Regions from separate parts of the Homo sapiens genome. Here all the other regions are reported to be linked to region 3. Evidence: microRNA targets listed by miRTarBase, many of them from high-throughput screens and not tested one by one. Region 3 holds a microRNA gene; each other region holds the end of a gene's coding sequence.
What was found. Region 3 holds the annotated microRNA hsa-miR-6801-5p (UGGUCAGAGGCAGCAGGAAAUGA, at 3,174-3,196, shown strand). A microRNA usually pairs through its seed, bases 2 to 8, with sites in the 3' UTR of a target mRNA and lowers its output. Matches are read on the target gene's strand: a 7mer-m8 pairs with bases 2 to 8, a 7mer-A1 pairs with bases 2 to 7 and ends in A, and an 8mer does both.

Region 1: miRTarBase lists NIPA2 as a target of hsa-miR-6801-5p. Seed matches in the 3' UTR shown: 7mer-A1 at 3,681-3,687.
Region 2: miRTarBase lists INTS7 as a target of hsa-miR-6801-5p. Seed matches in the 3' UTR shown: 8mer at 1,229-1,236.
Region 4: the mRNA of HEATR5A is a reported target of hsa-miR-6801-5p. Seed matches in the 3' UTR shown: 7mer-A1 at 2,991-2,997.

What each region holds. Positions count from the first base shown.
Region 1 is chr15:22,866,532-22,870,899 of GRCh38, reverse strand. It overlaps NIPA2 (NIPA magnesium transporter 2), which reads right to left. Exons shown (of 8, transcript NM_030922.7): 8 at 2,516-4,368. The coding sequence ends at 4,053. CYFIP1 (cytoplasmic FMR1 interacting protein 1) reads left to right here. Exons shown (of 31, transcript NM_014608.6): 31 at 708-3,848. The coding sequence ends at 872. Among named protein-coding and RNA genes, the nearest start is that of NIPA2, 30 kb to the right of the region's middle.
Region 2 is chr1:211,938,385-211,942,384 of GRCh38, reverse strand. INTS7 (integrator complex subunit 7) reads left to right here. Exons shown (of 20, transcript NM_015434.4): 20 at 274-1,982. The coding sequence ends at 561. Among named protein-coding and RNA genes, the nearest start is that of INTS7, 95 kb to the left of the region's middle. RefSeq lists an enhancer at 3,401-3,480.
Region 3 is chr19:52,218,852-52,223,188 of GRCh38, forward strand. It overlaps MIR6801 (microRNA 6801), which reads left to right and starts at 3,169; the gene lies at 3,169-3,247. It overlaps PPP2R1A (protein phosphatase 2 scaffold subunit Aalpha), which reads left to right. Exons shown (of 15, transcript NM_014225.6): 10 at 840-1,013; 11 at 1,338-1,398; 12 at 2,128-2,282; 13 at 3,248-3,390. RefSeq lists an enhancer at 2,709-3,908.
Region 4 is chr14:31,289,797-31,294,117 of GRCh38, forward strand. It overlaps HEATR5A (HEAT repeat containing 5A), which reads right to left. Exons shown (of 36, transcript NM_015473.4): 35 at 4,095-4,308; 36 at 1,992-3,816. The coding sequence ends at 3,509. Among named protein-coding and RNA genes, the nearest start is that of HECTD1, 84 kb to the left of the region's middle.

The sequences.
Region 1 (4,368 bases), not on the chromosome of region 3:
ATTCCTGTGGTAGCAGGAGGGTCTGTCAGAGTATCCCGTCACAGTATTTCCAAACTGGAAGTCTAAAACTTGTGTTAGTTGACTGGCCTTTCTCCACTGACCACATCATCTTCATCTGGAGATCCCCAGCTTTGAGCAGACAGTAGGTTCTTAATTGCCAATGTGGAAGGAATAGGCCTATCAATTGTGCGCATGAATGAATCTACAGCAGCATGAAGCCAACAGAGGGATTCTAAATTCAAAATATATTCATCCTTCCAACTGTTGCATTAAAGAGATGGTATGTGGCTGGGAGTGCTGGCTCATACCTGTAATCCCAACAGTTTGGGAGGCTGAGGCAGAGGAGGATTGCTTGAGCTCAGGAGTTCAAGACCATCCTGGACAGCATAATAAGACCTTGTCTTTACAAAATTAAATTTAAAAATTAGCTGCGTGTGGTGGTACACGCCTGTGGTCCCAGCTACTCAGGAGGCTGAGGTGGGAGGATGTCTTGAGGCTACAGTGAGCCGTGATCATGCCACTGCACTCCAGCCTGGGCGTCAGAGTGAGACCCTATCTTACAAAAAAAAACCCAAAAAGAACAGTATGTGTGTCAATTCCGTTTGCTATTATTTTTCTGAGAAAATATAAGAATCCTGACATTTTGAAACATGAAGAATAAATGTTGAAGTGTTAATAGTAAAACATCCTCACTTTGATGGTTGTAGCCTTTGAAGAAGATGGTGGAGAGAATTCGCAAGTTCCAGATTCTCAATGATGAGATCATCACCATCCTGGATAAGTACCTGAAGTCAGGCGACGGGGAGGGCACGCCAGTGGAGCATGTGCGCTGCTTCCAGCCGCCCATCCACCAGTCCCTCGCCAGCAGCTGAGGGCACGCGCTGCACTCCGTAACTCAACATGGCATGCCTTTCTCTCCGTAAACTATTTAGTGAGATTTTTAGGGACTATTTTTCAGTATCTCTGTACCTGTTAAAGGGGGTGCTTTTCGATCTAAAAACTTAATTTTATAAAATTGACTTATTTTTCTAGACTAAAATTGTATATGCTTTTGGTAATTAGGAACTCTTGAGAATATTGGCTGCTGATTGTTGCCATCACGTTCCTACAAAATTGTTTTTCTATGGGATGTTCTGGCAGCTGTGTCATAAAATGCTGCTGGGTTCATTCATTCATTCCATAAGAAACTTAATACCAGCAAATGCATTAAATCCCTTGCCAGTTACCATTAACTGTAACTATTTAGCTTTTGTTTAGGGATCTTTCTGATGGTCTTTTATGAGCAATCTTAGTTCTAAGTCATTGTTCCCATCCCTTTTTTGTGTGTTTCAGAAAATAGTGAACTTGATTCCCCTGCTTCCACTAAATCCAGTTGTGACAAAATCTAACGTGACATCAGATCGAAAGGTTATAGAAATAAAACTAATGAGATCTATTTGTGTTCATTTATTTACTCTAACCCTGTGCTGCCTGGCTTGGCAAGGAACTCTAACCTGAACTCACATACCAGGCCAGCTGGGATGGAGGTCACCTCTAAGGCTGAGGTGGGATGGGACCGTGACACCATCCCATATACCGCTCACCTCAGCACAGGTTTAGCTTTATATTTAGGGTTCCGCAGGCAAATGAGGTGTAAAACGGCCGTGTTGGCTGCTCCAATCTGGATATGAAGAGGCTACTCAGTGCCTCTCTGTTACCTGTGCCCATGACCTGGAGGAAGCCAGCAATGTGGGAGGAGATCAGTCAGGCCCAGTGGGTGCTGCACAAAGGGACCGGGAGCACCGAGTCCAGCCTTCAGCTGTCCCCGATCCACAGGGCTCACATGGCTGGAGCTGGTTCACATGATCTGTCAGAATGAAAAACAATCGGTCTAGACTACCAGTAGAGTCACGAACATGTTTGAGAAACTAAAGCCATATTTTAAAAAGTACTAAGGCAATGAGGTTCTGAAAATCCTAACTAACTGAATGGAAAAAGATGCTATGCCTGTTTATTGTAGATGAATACTACAGATAAACACAAGTCCAGCATGATTAACTGAACTCACTTTATATTGTAGCCTGGCAGTCATTTTACATTATTTGGAGTATTGCAACCTTCACCAATTTTAAAATTTTCTATGGATGCCAAGTTGCCATAAAAAGCAGGCCTCGCCTACTTTTCCGGAGGCCTTTGGAAACTGTCCAGAAGCATATGATGCACGGCACAGAAAAGTAGTAAGTGTACGAACCATCCTGTTACACTGCCAAACTCACTCAAGTGACATGAAGCCTAACAAACAATTATTCTTTCTTTATAAAAAGTTCCCTAAAAATGCTTTTGGTAATGTGAATTAATAACCCTGGGGCCAGCATTCTGCTGCAGATTTAGAGGTGGTAGCTGTGCTTATCTTAGAAACTACAGAATAGGATGAAAAATTATGGTAAAACTTAATCAATTACCAAGTTTTATAAGGCTTAATTATATACCAAATATGTAATACCTTAGGTATAAGACAATCTCAAGTGCTACAAAATGTTAAATAAGAATTTATTATTTATTAACCTATGCATGTTCAAATGAGTCTCTGTCCTCAAGGGGGAGAAAACTGGTTCTTTTATGTACAAAGCACAGATGTAGGTACAGTATATAAACAGATACGTAGTACATCTGTAGTATTAAAATGGCATGGGAGGAGGCAGTTAGAAAAAACATCTAAAACAGCTCCTTAGAAGGCCAATAATAAAGTTGGAAAAAAGGGAGTTTCCACGCAGCCAGTGGTGAGCTGCATGGGATACCAGCACCATTGGCAGGGGAGGCCCTCGGGGAGTGATGGCTTGGCGCTGGCGCACCACTGGGTAACCTCCAGGCAGGAGCCACAGGCTGGAACAGGCGAACACTTTCTTCCCATCACCTAGGTGGAAATTAATTCTGCCAATACTTTTTTTTAAAGGCCAGTCAATGGTTATGAGTGGATAGGTTCAAAGCTGAATGGAGTTCATTAGACCTTTTTTATTATTCTACCTTTTCTGCATATGTTTGCAGTTTTCCATCGACTTCTTCATAAACAAACATTTTCTAGAAACCAAAATATGTAGTGGCCCAAAGGAGCTCTTAAGCAAAGTACTTGGTACAAAGAGACCATATTCTATAAACATGTTAAGTTTGTTCTAAGCATTCAGACTTTTAGAATAAGAACTTCATTTCAACTTTTTATTATAACATGAGCTAAATTTAAGAAACAACCCTAGTCTTCTATTTCCCAGAGCTGTTCAAAGTCTAAATGACAATATAACTCATTATGAAAATATACTGAAAAGTACAAGAGCTGATGTAAAACGGTAATCAAGGTTCCAGGCATCATGGGATTAGGGTAACTGAAGAATAAACCCAGCCAGGCTGCAACAGCAGGCAGGATGTGCTGGCTTGATGAGGTGCTAAGGCCATCGAATGCTCAGAGGAAGCCGGATTCACGGTGATCATCTCAACCTGAGAAATCGTTCCTTGGGGTGATTTCTGCCCTTTTTTTTGTTTTGTAAGAAAGAGGTTCCTTCATTCAGTAACTTAGTTTTCCCTTAATAAATATTTCAAAAATAAAACCAATCATCATCAAACAAACAGGAGCCACTTTTGTAGGTAAGGTAAATCACAGGATAATGTATTGGGATAACTCTGTTTTTTTAAAATAAAAAAGCCTTACATGGTCAGGGATTGATGGAGTGGGGATGACAAATGCACATTTCAGACTTTCATCACCAATGAAAAAATAAAGCATTTTCATAGACTTAAAACTGTCATTAGTGCATTCGGCTTTTGGAGAAGGGATGAAAATGTAAAATACTTCTACAACAATAAAATGTTAATAGAAATCGTCATGTGCTGAGGTCATTTTAGTGAGCTACCATTGTTTGTTTAAATACAAGAAAAGTAATTTCTTGGTCCAAATTAGTGAAATCTTTAAAAAGATTGCCTTTAAAGAACATTATTTGAGGACAATGTTTTTTCAGACACATTCTGATGATATTCAAATTCACTTCATAACAATCACAGATTAACCTTTAATTACACCTTTCTTAAAAAGCTGTCAGATTTCCATTTCTTCGGGAGACATTTTCACCAGTGTGTTGTTCGATTCCACAGGTTAAGCTTTCTTCATTATTATTAAGAACTTCATACATATTAGAGAGATTGCCATTCATTGCTTTCTCGTCTTTTCGAAAAGACACAGGCAGACTTGCTAGACTAAAGCTGACGTCTTTAAAGGCATGCAACAAGAATATCCCCACAATGATTGTAAAGAAGCCACTCAAAGTACCAATGACATCGTCAACAGGCATATCTTGCCACTCCTTAAAAAGAATAGCTGAACAAGTTAAAACTGATGTTGTA
Region 2 (4,000 bases), not on the chromosome of region 3:
GAGTGAGGAGCATCACTTAGTAGTTCAGAGTGTAGGCCCTGGAGGTAGTCTGCCTGTGTTCAGATTCCTACTCCGTTCACTAATCATGTGACTTTGGAGACATTACTTAACCTGTCTGCCTTAGACTCCTCATCGGTGAAGCAAGGATGATAGCAGTACCTAATTTTTTATTGTCTGCATGGTCTAAATAAGCTCTTAGAACAGGGCCTAACTCATAGTAAGCACTGAAGAAATGTTAGCCATTGTTGTTAGTTAACAATTGTTTCATTGCAGATACCCATTGACAACATGACCAATGAGATGGAGCAAAGGGTTGAACCTCATAATGATTACTTCAGTACTCAATTTCTGTTGAACTTTGCTATCCTTGGAACACACAACATTACAGTGGAATCTTCTGTGAAAGATGCCAATGGTATAGTATGGAAGACTGGTCCCAGAACTACCATATTTGTAAAATCCCTGGAAGACCCTTATTCCCAGCAAATTCGCTTACAACAGCAGCAAGCCCAGCAGCCATTACAGCAGCAGCAGCAACGCAATGCCTACACACGGTTTTAACCATGGAATGAATGCACTGCAGACTCTCAAGAGATCAATCAAATTGCCAGAAACAGTTTGGTTTTTCATATGGAATAAGTATTAAAGTTACAGTGTAGTTCATTTATTCATTGATTTTTGTAATGTAATATTCTGGAAAAAATTTTGTTTTCTTAAAAATTTTGTCTGACAGCTGGGCGTGGTTGCTCACGCCTGTAATCCCAGCACTTTGGGAGGCTGAGGTGGGCGGCTCACGAGGAGATCAAGACCATCCTGGCTAACACAGTGAAACCCCGTCTCCACTAAAAAATACAAAAAAATTAGCCAAGCATGGTGGCAGGCGCCTGTAGTCCCAGCTACTTGGGAGGCTGAGGCAGGAGAATGGTGTGAACCTGGGAGGCGGAGCTTGCAGTGAGCCGAGACTGTGCTCCAGCCTGGGCGACAGAGCGAGACTCCGTCTCAAAAAAATAAATAAATACATTTTGTCTGAAAAATAACTGGGATCCTGGCCAGAAAGATTGTTCTTTCTTGTTTTATTATTAGTTTTTTCTGTTGCCAAGCTTTTTTTTCTTTCAAGAATAGTCACATGTTGAGATCACTGAATTGGTAAATTTGACCGCTACTCTTCCAAAATACATCATTTGCTGCCTGACTTAGACCTAGGATTCTGAGTTGTTCATTGGGAGGTTCTGACCAGTCACTACAAGGTTTATCCATGGTAGCAGAACCTGAGTCCTTCTGTAGATGGACTTGAAAGTGTTCCGTGCAACATCCAGCCTTCTGGATTATGAAAGCCCACAGTCTAACAGTATTGAAACATCCTGCTGTATTAGTTCAACCACATATTTATCTCTTCCTGTGCTAAAGCAGTCTTTATTATTTTCATATTTAATTGAAACAAAGAGCAGCTAGCAATTTCATAGAAAATTAATTTGTTTTTTCTGATGTGTCTGCAACTGTGTATAATACAGACATTTCACATTGTTTCCAAAAGTGAAGAACACTCATTTAATATCTTCAATGTTTTAAGTTAGAAGGGGTGGATCTTTTCCTTTGGTTGGTGATTGGTTTGGTTTATACTTGATGAGTTATGCTAGACTGATTGTTTAGAGAGAGCAGTCTCTTTATTACACAGGCTCAGTTTGTTGGGATGCTCAGGGAACAGAGTTTTCTGGTTAGCCAGAAAACCCCCTTTTTTCCTATTTTAATTCTGGTTGAAAACCATGATAAAATAGACTTTCTTAGCACAGTATGGTAGATATAACTTAACTGCTTTTTGATTGGGGATCATTTAGGGCTTCAGGATCACGATTTCTAAACATCAGGGATCATATGGTTGCAGATGCCGATGCTATAAGTAATTTGGCCGGATGCAGCTCCTAAGGTAAAGCAGGGTACTTTCCCTGGAATTTCCTTTTTAAATAAATATCTGTTTCTTTGCTTGTGTTTTGCCTTTTTCTCTTCAAAGTCAACATTAATTCAAAGGAGAATGGAGCTTAAGATAAAAAATAAAAAGGGGTTGTTGTTTTTTTTTTCTTTCTTGTCATGCGGCCTCTGGGACTGAGAAGTGATTTGCAACTTGGGTCTCTCCAAGATTGCTTGCCTTCATGAGCACAACCCATTGTACTGCTAACAGCCAGAACATTCTCATAAAATGTGTACAGATCTACAGTGTCCACGGTTGAATGACATCTCTTCAGATGCAGCCCAGTTGTATGAGGTTCACACAACCTACACAGTCATCTCAGCACCTGGGAACACGTGCTTAGGAAAAATTGCCAGAGCAGTGCAGAACCCCTTGTTCTTTTACCAGGTGTGGAAACAGCTGAATCAGAAAGCCTGGGTTTCACTCTTGGTTCTGGTGAATTAGCTGTGTGACCAAGCAAGTCACTTTACCTCTACATCTTAGGGGTTTTTTTTTTTGTCTGTCAAGTGACTGAATTAGACTGGTTTTCTGGATTCCAGCCTAGAGTTGTATTATCAAGTGACTGAAAGACTAAAAACAAACAAAAACATTTCTTAAATTGGAGATCTTTTTTATTTGTAATTAAGTGGCTATTTTCAGGGTTAAAGTTTACAATGTGGATTTCAAGCTTCTGGTGCCATTCAAGGTAGATTTCTCCAAAAAAGAAGCAAATCTTGTAAGCCATCAATTCCCTTTGAGAACTTCCCAAATGTTATGTTCTTAAAAGATAGGTTTTGATAGCTATGTTTATGAACTTTTTAACTTGGTGTATTATGGGCTCCTGGCACAAACTCAGAAAGGAATTTTTTTTTTTTTTTTTTGAGACAGAGTCTCGCTCTGTTGCCCAGGCTGGAGTGCAGTGGTGCAATCTCAGCTCACTGCAACCTCTACCTCCCAGGCTCCGGTGATTCTCCTGCCTCAGTCTCCCGAGTAGCTGGGATTACAGGCATGTGCCACCACGCCTGGTTAGTTTTTATATTTTTTAGTAGAGATGGGTTTCACCATGTTGGCCAGGATGGTCCCAAACTCTGGTGATCGCCCGTCTTGGCCTCCCAAAGTGCTAGGATTACAGGTGTGAGCCACCGTGCCTGGCCAGGAATTATTAAAATAAAAGCAAGTCCAAGAAGTTCAGAGTATAACTGAACTGAACATAACTCTGAAGCAAGAAAGACTTATTTTAGTATGTCCATTAGATCCAGGATTGGAACTCTGATTTTGTTTAGTAAAATATCTACTGAATTTTTGGCATCAACTGTTAAATGGTTATTTGTGGTGGGGGAAGCTGTTTATAACTTCAACACTACACTAATGAATGAAAAGAAAAATGAGATGCAGAAAAGAAAGATGCATACTAATTGTGAAGTGGGCATGTTCCCTAAATTTAGAAATATGAAGGGCACTTGCTGGTTAAAGCTAGGAAGACAGGACTAGTTTTTCTCAGTGCTTCGTCACTTTGCAGTGCAGTAGTGTTTCCTTATCTGCAGTTTTTGCTTTTCACTTTCACTTTGCTTTTCAGTTTCAGTTCCCAGAGGTGAAGATAGACCACATTCACATAATTTTTATTACAGTATATTGTTACAATTGTTCTATTTTATAATCACTTAATCTCTTTACTGTGCCTATTTTATAAATTAAACTTTGGCATAGGTGTGTATGTATAGGAAAAAATGTAGTGTATATAGGGTTTGGTACTATCCTCAGTCATAGGCATCCACTGGGGATCTTGGAACGTATCTCCTACTGATAAGGGGGACTGCTGTGTAGTCCAGTGACTGAGAGCACCAGCCTTTGGGGCCATACTGCCGAGGTTCCAATCTTAACTTTATGACCTTGGACAAGCTACTTAGTCTCTCTATGCCTCAATTTCCTTATTCCTAATAGAGAAACATATTAGTGTTTCATGGGGTAGGTATGAGAATTAAGTGAGTTAGTATAGAATTTACTTAGAACATGCTTGGCATATAGTAAAACAGATATATAAGCATTTGCTTTTAT
Region 3 (4,337 bases):
GTAATCGTGTGCTGGCAGCCAGCCTGTCTCAGGGCAGCTTCTCTTAGAAGAAAAGAACCAGCATGGTTTTCTTGGTGTGAGGAATTCATCTGACTTATATTTGAGATTTCCATTTTAGATTTATAAACTTTATATTTTACATTTTGACTCTCACCAGAATTTATAAACTTGTCTAAATGAAAAAGGCTACCTTTTTACTGGTGCACCAAAAATAAGTCTTTTTAAATGGGTGAGGTATAGTCTCTGAGCCTTCTCTTCTCATGCACATGTTCAGCAGCTTGAGGCTCACACAGCAAGGGCTGGAGCTGGGCAAGGGCCAGTCCTATCCTCGGAATGTGCAGGGTTTCAACAGCCCAAGCCTGCCAGGCTTGTTCACTTGGTTATTGATTCATTTCAGTGCTCCTTTATTTATTTATTTTTTTAGACTAAAATAGTTTTAATAAGGAAATAGTTTTCTTCCTTCCCTTCTCCCATGTTGTGGATTGATACCCAGAAAGGAACCCTTGTTAGCAAGCAGCGGAGCTAGGATTAGAAGAATCATGTCTGCCTGTTTTTTCCAGGGTGCTGTATTTTCCTACTGTGATTCTTAAAGTCTTTTCAAAATGGATAAACATTTCTTGTGATACTATTGTAAGGTTTAAAAATCTGCTTAAGTTAGTGATCCATGCTGCTTGCTTTTTGTGTGCCGTTAATGTGTTCCCAGAACGGGGAGCTGGGCTTGGACAGGAGTAGTCCCTCGGGAGATGTCCATAAAAGTTGATGCAGCTGAGCTCTTTCCATCCTGTCCTGGGTTGCTGTGTGCATTGCATTCTCTCAGAATCCTTCTTTCCTCTCCTCAGTGCCCTGAGGTACGGCTGAACATCATCTCTAACCTGGACTGTGTGAACGAGGTGATTGGCATCCGGCAGCTGTCCCAGTCCCTGCTCCCTGCCATTGTGGAGCTGGCTGAGGACGCCAAGTGGCGGGTGCGGCTGGCCATCATTGAGTACATGCCCCTCCTGGCTGGACAGCTGGTGAGTGAGGAGGCCTGGGGGCCAGGCAGTGCTGCCTCAGGGGAGGTGCAGTATGTCCAGGGCTGTGATGGGGAAACGGGGCTTTGAAGGCTTAGTGGAGGCTGTGACAACTGCCTGGGGAGTCGAAGGAAGGGACCCAGGAAATAGGGCCTTAAAAGATGCATTGGATTCAATAAGAGAGAGGAGGGAAAGGAGCACCTCAGACAAAGTTGAGAAGTGTCCGGTCTTTCTAGGGTGGGTGTAGGTTCCATGGGATGTGGCTAGCAGCTCCCCCTGTTTGCTCTCCTGGAACGCTTACCTTGGAACCCTTGGTTTCTCCTGTAGGGAGTGGAGTTCTTTGATGAGAAACTTAACTCCTTGTGCATGGCCTGGCTTGTGGATCATGGTGAGTACCTTCACAGGAGCAGCAAGAGGAGATGGGAGCTCCAGAAAGGCAGGATGGATTGGCTGGGGCTGTGGCGGGCAGTGGAGGAGGCTAGAGTCACTCCCCACGCCGCTGGATGCTCGTATGGACCAGCTCGCATGCTTGTTAGAGTCCTAGAGAAGTGTTGAGTGGGAGGAGGACGAAACAGATCACCCAGGGGTTGCCTGGTATAGTGGAGAGCCAGAGGGCCACTGAGCAGCCAGACCAGGGTTTTGAATCCTGCCCTTGGGGCTGTCAGATCTAAAACAAGTCACCTGCTGTCTTTGAATGAGCCCCACACTCATTCTTTGAAACTTCTTATTCTGGTGCCTTGGGGCCATTATGAGAATGGCTCATTGTTTACACTAAGAGAGGTAAAAAATAAAAGGTAATATTTATCTCTGTGAAGCCCTGTTTGAAGTAATAAGTGCCACATAATTTAGGCAAATCACTTCTTAGAGCCTTAGTTTGCCCATCTGTAAAATGAAGCCAGTAGTGGAACCTACCTCTTGGAGTGGTTGAAAAGATACTGTATAAAAAAAAACAGTTACTAGATATAGCACATAGTAAGTCCTTTTTTCTCTCTTTGGCTCACATGCAGCCTGGCACCTAGGGGCTGCTTTGTAAGCCATGGTGAGTGTGACCTACATTTTGCCCACATCAGTTCTTCACCTCCAAATCCCTGTCTCTCTCACCCTCACCCTTCTGCAGTATATGCCATCCGCGAGGCAGCCACCAGCAACCTGAAGAAGCTAGTGGAAAAGTTTGGGAAGGAGTGGGCCCATGCCACAATCATCCCCAAGGTCTTGGCCATGTCCGGAGACCCCAACTACCTGCACCGCATGACTACGCTCTTCTGCATCAATGTGAGCCTTCCACCTGCCTGCTGGCCCATCCCTAGGGAACTGGAGCGCGTGGGAGAGGAGGGATGCTAGAGGGTTCCCCAAGGGAGACACCTGGCTTGGGAATGGAGACATGGAGTGCATCTTCTATCCAGAGATGAGTCCTTGGGGAACTGCAGGCAAGGGGGTGGGGCTCCCAGGGTCAGGGTCATAGGGCCTCTGGGACTGGGGACTTGGATGGTGAGGGACCCAGGGCCTGGGAGACTTGACCTGTTGGAGCAGCGATCTCAAGCTTTATGAGCACCCCTCTCCTTCCCTGAGAAATGTGTGTCTCTATCTGTGGTGCGTTGGGTGAGTGTATGGGCTCTAGGTCAGACCTAGTTTTAAATTCTGGTACTGCCATATATTAGCTATGGACCTTGGATAGTTACCTAACCGATGCTTTGGTCTTCTCATTTGTAAATAATTCATACTGTAAAGAATTCATACTGGTAATCACAGCCTGGTGAGCGTGAAGATTAATCAGGTTATACACGCACAGGGCTTAGAACAGTTATGCTACAGGTAGGAAGTGCTCCTGTCTATTTGCTTTTCCTACGATTATAATTATCTCATGTACTACTTATTTATGTGTAAACCATACACAGGGCTAGAAAGGAAGGGATTTAAAAATAAATATAACTAAGTGTTCTGATCATTTCTTCCCACGCCACTCTCTGGAGAGCATTGCTTTAAGGAGGGATCCTAGGGCTTGGTAATTAAGGTCGATCTCCAGAATAATTAAGGGAAGCCTGAGGACAGAGAAACTGGGACATGGTGTTAGGATGGTGTTAGTGGAGTTGGGAGATTCACTCCACTAACTGAGTCACCCGTATTGCTCAGCCTCTGTGGGGCCTGATGATCACCAGAGTGGCCTGGTCAGAGGCAGCAGGAAATGAGAGTTAGCCAGGAGCTTTGCATACTCACCCCTGCCACTCACTGGCCCCCAGGTGCTGTCTGAGGTCTGTGGGCAGGACATCACCACCAAGCACATGCTACCCACGGTTCTGCGCATGGCTGGGGACCCGGTTGCCAATGTCCGCTTCAATGTGGCCAAGTCTCTGCAGAAGATAGGGCCCATCCTGGACAACAGGTGAGGTCTGGATACTCCCCCACACACTGGCAGGGGCTTCTTGTGGGCACCTTAATCTTTGACCTTTGAAGGTAGAGCCCAGGGTCAGAGGCCTGGCAGCGCTCCTTGCTTGCTGTGTGACCTTGGCTCCCTTCCCTTCTCAAGGTGTGTTTTCTCAACTGTAAAATGAACATCACAGCATGAAATAGAAAGAGGGGGTGATGGGTTGGCAGTCCTGTATACTAGCAACAAGTCATTAGAAAATGAAATCACCTTATGTTTTATATGTAAGTATGTGTATAATTTATAATTGCACCAAAAATATCAAATAGCCAGGAATAAATTCAATGAAAGATGTGTATGTAACACCTCTAATGTAAACTGTAAAACACTAATGTGAGAAATTAAAGCAGACCTGACCAAGGTGGGCGGATCAGTTGAGGTCAGGAGTTCACGACCAGCCTGGCCAACATGGCGAAACCCCGTCTCTAGTAAAAATACAAAAAATTAGCCGGTGCGGTAGCACTCACCTGTAATCCTAGCTATTTGGGAGGCTGAAGGCAAGAGAATTGCTTGAATCCAGGAGGTGGAGGTTGCAGTGAGCTGAGATCATGCCACTGCACTCCAGCCTGGGCGATAGAGCGAGACTGTCTCAAAAAAAATTAAAGCAGACCTACATAATATTCACGGATGGGACAGTTCCCTGAACTCATCTTTAGATTCAGTATAAGCCCAATAATCTTAACAGGTTCTTTAGTGGAAAATTGACACTTCTAATGAACAAAGTTGTCTGATTTACACTACCAGAGACGAAGACTTATGACACCACAATAATTAAAATAGATGTGAACACAAGCATATTTAAATCGCCCAATAGAATGGAATCAAGGGTACAGAAACAGTCCCACATGTGTTTAACAGTAGGCATCTCTGCAGTTCAGTGGAGAAATGTATGTTTTTTAAAAAAC
Region 4 (4,321 bases), not on the chromosome of region 3:
TATATAAAATTTAGACTCAATATTTTATTAACAGAAAGGTGTTATATCCAGTGTTATTTTACATAAGCTTTTAAGCAATGGGCTAAATAGAATGACTTAACTAGTAGCTTTGTCTCTATTTCTCCTCTTAGAAAAAAAATTAAGCTCAAGACAAATATTATACCATTTTGATGGTTTCATCCAAGTTGCTAATCAACATTTTTAATTTGTAACGTTACCAAGCTAATTAATATGCAACTGCTTTATTACAACTAGACTCATTAATATCTAAGCATATAATCTATTCCCATAGAAACTGTAGAGGGCAGGCCAGGTACAGTGGCTCATGCCTGTAATCCCAGCACTTTGGGAGGCCGAGGCGGGCGGATCACCTGAGGTCAGGAGTTCAAGACCAGTCTGACCAACATGGACAAACCCCGTCTCCCCTAAAAATACAAAATTAGCCAGATGTGGTGGCACATGCCTATAATCCCGGCTACTTGGGAAGGCTGAGGCAGTAGAATCACTTGAACCTGGGAAGCAGAGGCCATTGCACTCCAGCCTGGGCAACAAGAGCGAAACTCCATCTCAAAAAAAAAAAAAAAAAAAAAAGAAACTGCTGTAGAAAATAATTAAAAAAAAACTTTTTCCCCTATTCTATTAGCGAAAGACTTTTTAGTTGTAATTTGGAGAAATGTAATTGAAAATATCTTCAACAAAGAGTGAGGAAGGCTCCTGAGGGAGCCCGGAGCGCTGAAAGAGGAGAAAAGCTATACCTTGATGGAATCGGGATTGCCAGTTTTCCTGTCTCCAGCATGAATGCTTGGGATCAGAAAGATGAGTTCAAACCCCAGCTGTTAAGCCTTAATTTCATTATCAGTAAAGATACATTTAATAGTTCAGGGTTGTATTAAATAAGGCGATTTAAGGAGATACATTTAAGAGTAGCTCAAATTTCCTAATTCCATTACACTGGACATAAAAGGTTTTTTTCCTAATTACTGACGTTCATATAAGCACCTTTAATCCAAATAATTCAGGATACTAGAGTACTGAGTAGAAATCTTAATGTGTAAGAGCAAACTAAATGAAACAGCTAAAACAGACAAAACACTTTTTTAAAATCCCTAAGTCAAATTAATTAGTTACATCCTGAGAACAACCTAGTTCAGCATTTGCCTTGGCAAAGAAGTTATGAGTCCTCATCCATCCTGTACCAGTGCAATTCAATAGCTATTAAGTGAGCCAAGTTACAGAAGACATAATTTCTCCCTATGAAGTGGTACAGTCTAAGAGGGAGACAAGATAATATTAAAATGCAATGTGAGCTGGGTGTGGTGGCTCACACCTATAATCCTAGCACTTTGGGAGGCCAAGGTGGGAGGACAGCTTGAGCTCAGGAGTTTGAGACTAGACTGGGCAGCATATGAGTGAGACCTCATATCTACAAAAAAAATTTTTAAATTAGGCTTGGAGACACACATCTGTAGTTCCTGCTACTTGGGGGGCTGAGGCAGGAGGATCACTTGAGCATAGTAGGTCAAGGCTGCACTGAGCTGTGTTCACACCATTGCATTCCAGCCTGGGCAACAGAACAAGACCTTGGCTTAAACAAACAAACAAACCACAAATTGCAATGTGATTTTTTATGCATACAAGAATGTATTAAGCACTATGGAAACACAGATGAGGAAGCAGTTAAATTGGTGTAAGAGGAAGTTAAGAAGTGTTAAGGAGAGTTACCAAGGAAAGGTGATATTTAAGCCAGGCCTAAAAGGAGTGGGCAATCACCAGACAGAAGACAGGAGAGAAAAGGACATTTTAGGTAAAGGGAACAATAAATATACACTCAATGCCTAGAGACACTTAGGAAGAGACAGAGAATCTAAACCATCACAAATAATGCTCCAAAGAAAGGGCTCTTCTGAGAAAAAAGGCTGATTTTCTGGAATCCATGTGAGAGAAACCAACCTGCCATCTTTTGTTGGTAAAATAATTTAAAAATACAAGAATGATAATGAAAATTAGCTTTATTTATGTAATTTAGAAAAAATGATTGTAGTGTTAGAGTTTGTCAAATGTTTTCACTCTGAACAATTTACAATAGTATTTATATACAAACATAATAAAATAGGTACATCACATTGTTCTTGCTTCAAAATGTCTTCTCAATTCTGACATGCTTCTATCACTTCGGTTTGTAATTTTTAAGAGGGAAATGCTCTGTTTTGACACAGTGCTTGATTCACACAGTATAACACTGAAGTAGAAGGAGAATCAACAATCATGAACACAGTTAAAAAATATTTTTCAACCAATATGACTTTATCATTAATCTTTTTTCTATAATAAAATGTTTCCTGTTAAAAAAAATACTTGTATTCACCTGATGACCTAAATTTGTTGTACTAAATTTGGCATTTATATAAACCCATAGTTGATCTAAATACAATGTAGATATGAACCTAGGTTAAAACTCATTGATACAAATGTTTGCCACAAATGAAAATGAACAAAATTGGTAAGAACAGAGGTAAACAGAAAAATCCATTTGAAAAATAGTGGAAATGGCTTATTCTATTTAAAATGAGTAAGACTCAATTTCTGAACCCAATATAAACTAAACCAAAAGATGGTGGAAAACCATGATATAGACACCAAATCTTATGTTGCACTGTAAGGCTGTAAGTAATTTGTACTATTGTATACTGGATAATCCTAGACCAGGTTTCCTAAATAGCTCTCCAATCATTTTATCTTCTTGGAGAAATCAGAGAAAGTTTAATACAATTACTGAATAAGGCAGAATTTTTTTTTTTTTTTTTTAGATGGAGTCTCACTCTGTCGCCCAGGCTGGAGTGCAGTGGCACAATCTTGGCTCACTGCAACCTCTGCCTGCCAGGTTCAAGCGATTTTCCTGCCTCGGCCTCCTGAGTAGCTGGGATTACAGGTGTGTGCCACCACACCCGGCTAATTTTTGTATTTTTAGTAGAGACGGGGTTTCACCATGTTGGTCAGGCTGGTCTCAAACTCCCGACTTCGTGATCCGCCCGCCTTGGCCTTCCAAAGTGCTGGAATTACAGGGATGAGCCACTGTGCCGGGCCAAAGCAGAATTTTAAATCAGCAATTGGGATACAATATTAGTGCAGATAATTTACACTAGAGTCATATTTATATCTGTCACAGTATTAAGTATACCACATATGTATGGACTGTTAGAAGAAATTCATTTCATTTTTAAAGCAGTGGATTGTTTAGTAAGTTTAGTTCTTTAGCACTTTCTTAAAATTCCTGGCAAGTTAGCTCCATTGTCTTTTTAAATAGAAAAACAAAACAAAACAAAACACAAACCCCACGCACACACACAAAAATGTTAAGTATGCTGTTACTTTGAAGAGTCACAGCTATTTAAGGTAAAACAATCAACTAGACCTCTAAGGGCACTTGTGTCTACAATGTCCCTTTTGTCACCAAAGGCAATGATCAAGTATTTATTATATTAAGGTGCTTACTATTCCAAAAAAAAAATCAGAGGAAACTGGTCTTTAATTGGATGCTTGAGTTTTTTCCAGGACTCTTAGTATATTTAGATGTTGGTATCTTGACTTTGACACTTTCCTGATTGCCCTTTATAGCAGCCTCAAGGCGGGCTTTTAGGGCTGGAGAAGAAGCCACTAAACTTTTAAAAACAGATGAATACTGAGGTCCAATTTGCATGAGATTTTGTAGAGCAAAGTCATGTAAATTTCTCATTATGGAAGTTGCTGATCCCAGAGAATTTTCATCCAAAAGGAAGGAAATGAGGATGGGCAAAAGACAGGCCACCAGCTGAGCGCCTAGAAAGTAAACAAATAATATAAGTTCAGTGACATAAATGTTTCTAACAAAAGCCTGCAAATGCACTTGATCTGTATACATTTTTCCCCACTAAAGAAAACAATTCGTCCAATCTCTTCTAAATTAATACTAAATAATATCAATACTTGGGATTAACATAACACCTTTCAATGAATGTGAAATACAGATATAATGTGACTGATTGTTTTGCAATTTAAATAACAGTAAAATTCTGATTTTTGTTGAGACTGAGTATGAATTTAGTGCTGACACTTACGATGGTGTTCTTCAGCAACAGTAACCAGTGTTTCTAAGACCTTTATGCCTTCTTGGAAGATCTCAAGCTCAGCAGTGTTTTCAGGTTTTCTCTTGTCTATTTCCTGCAGTTTTTCCATGATACAGGATGCTAAAGAGTAAATGTATGGGTAGGAAACAGCTGGATTTGGATACTGAAAGATGGAATGTAGGAGCTGGTAGGTCTTGATTTGTACCTAATAAGGTAAG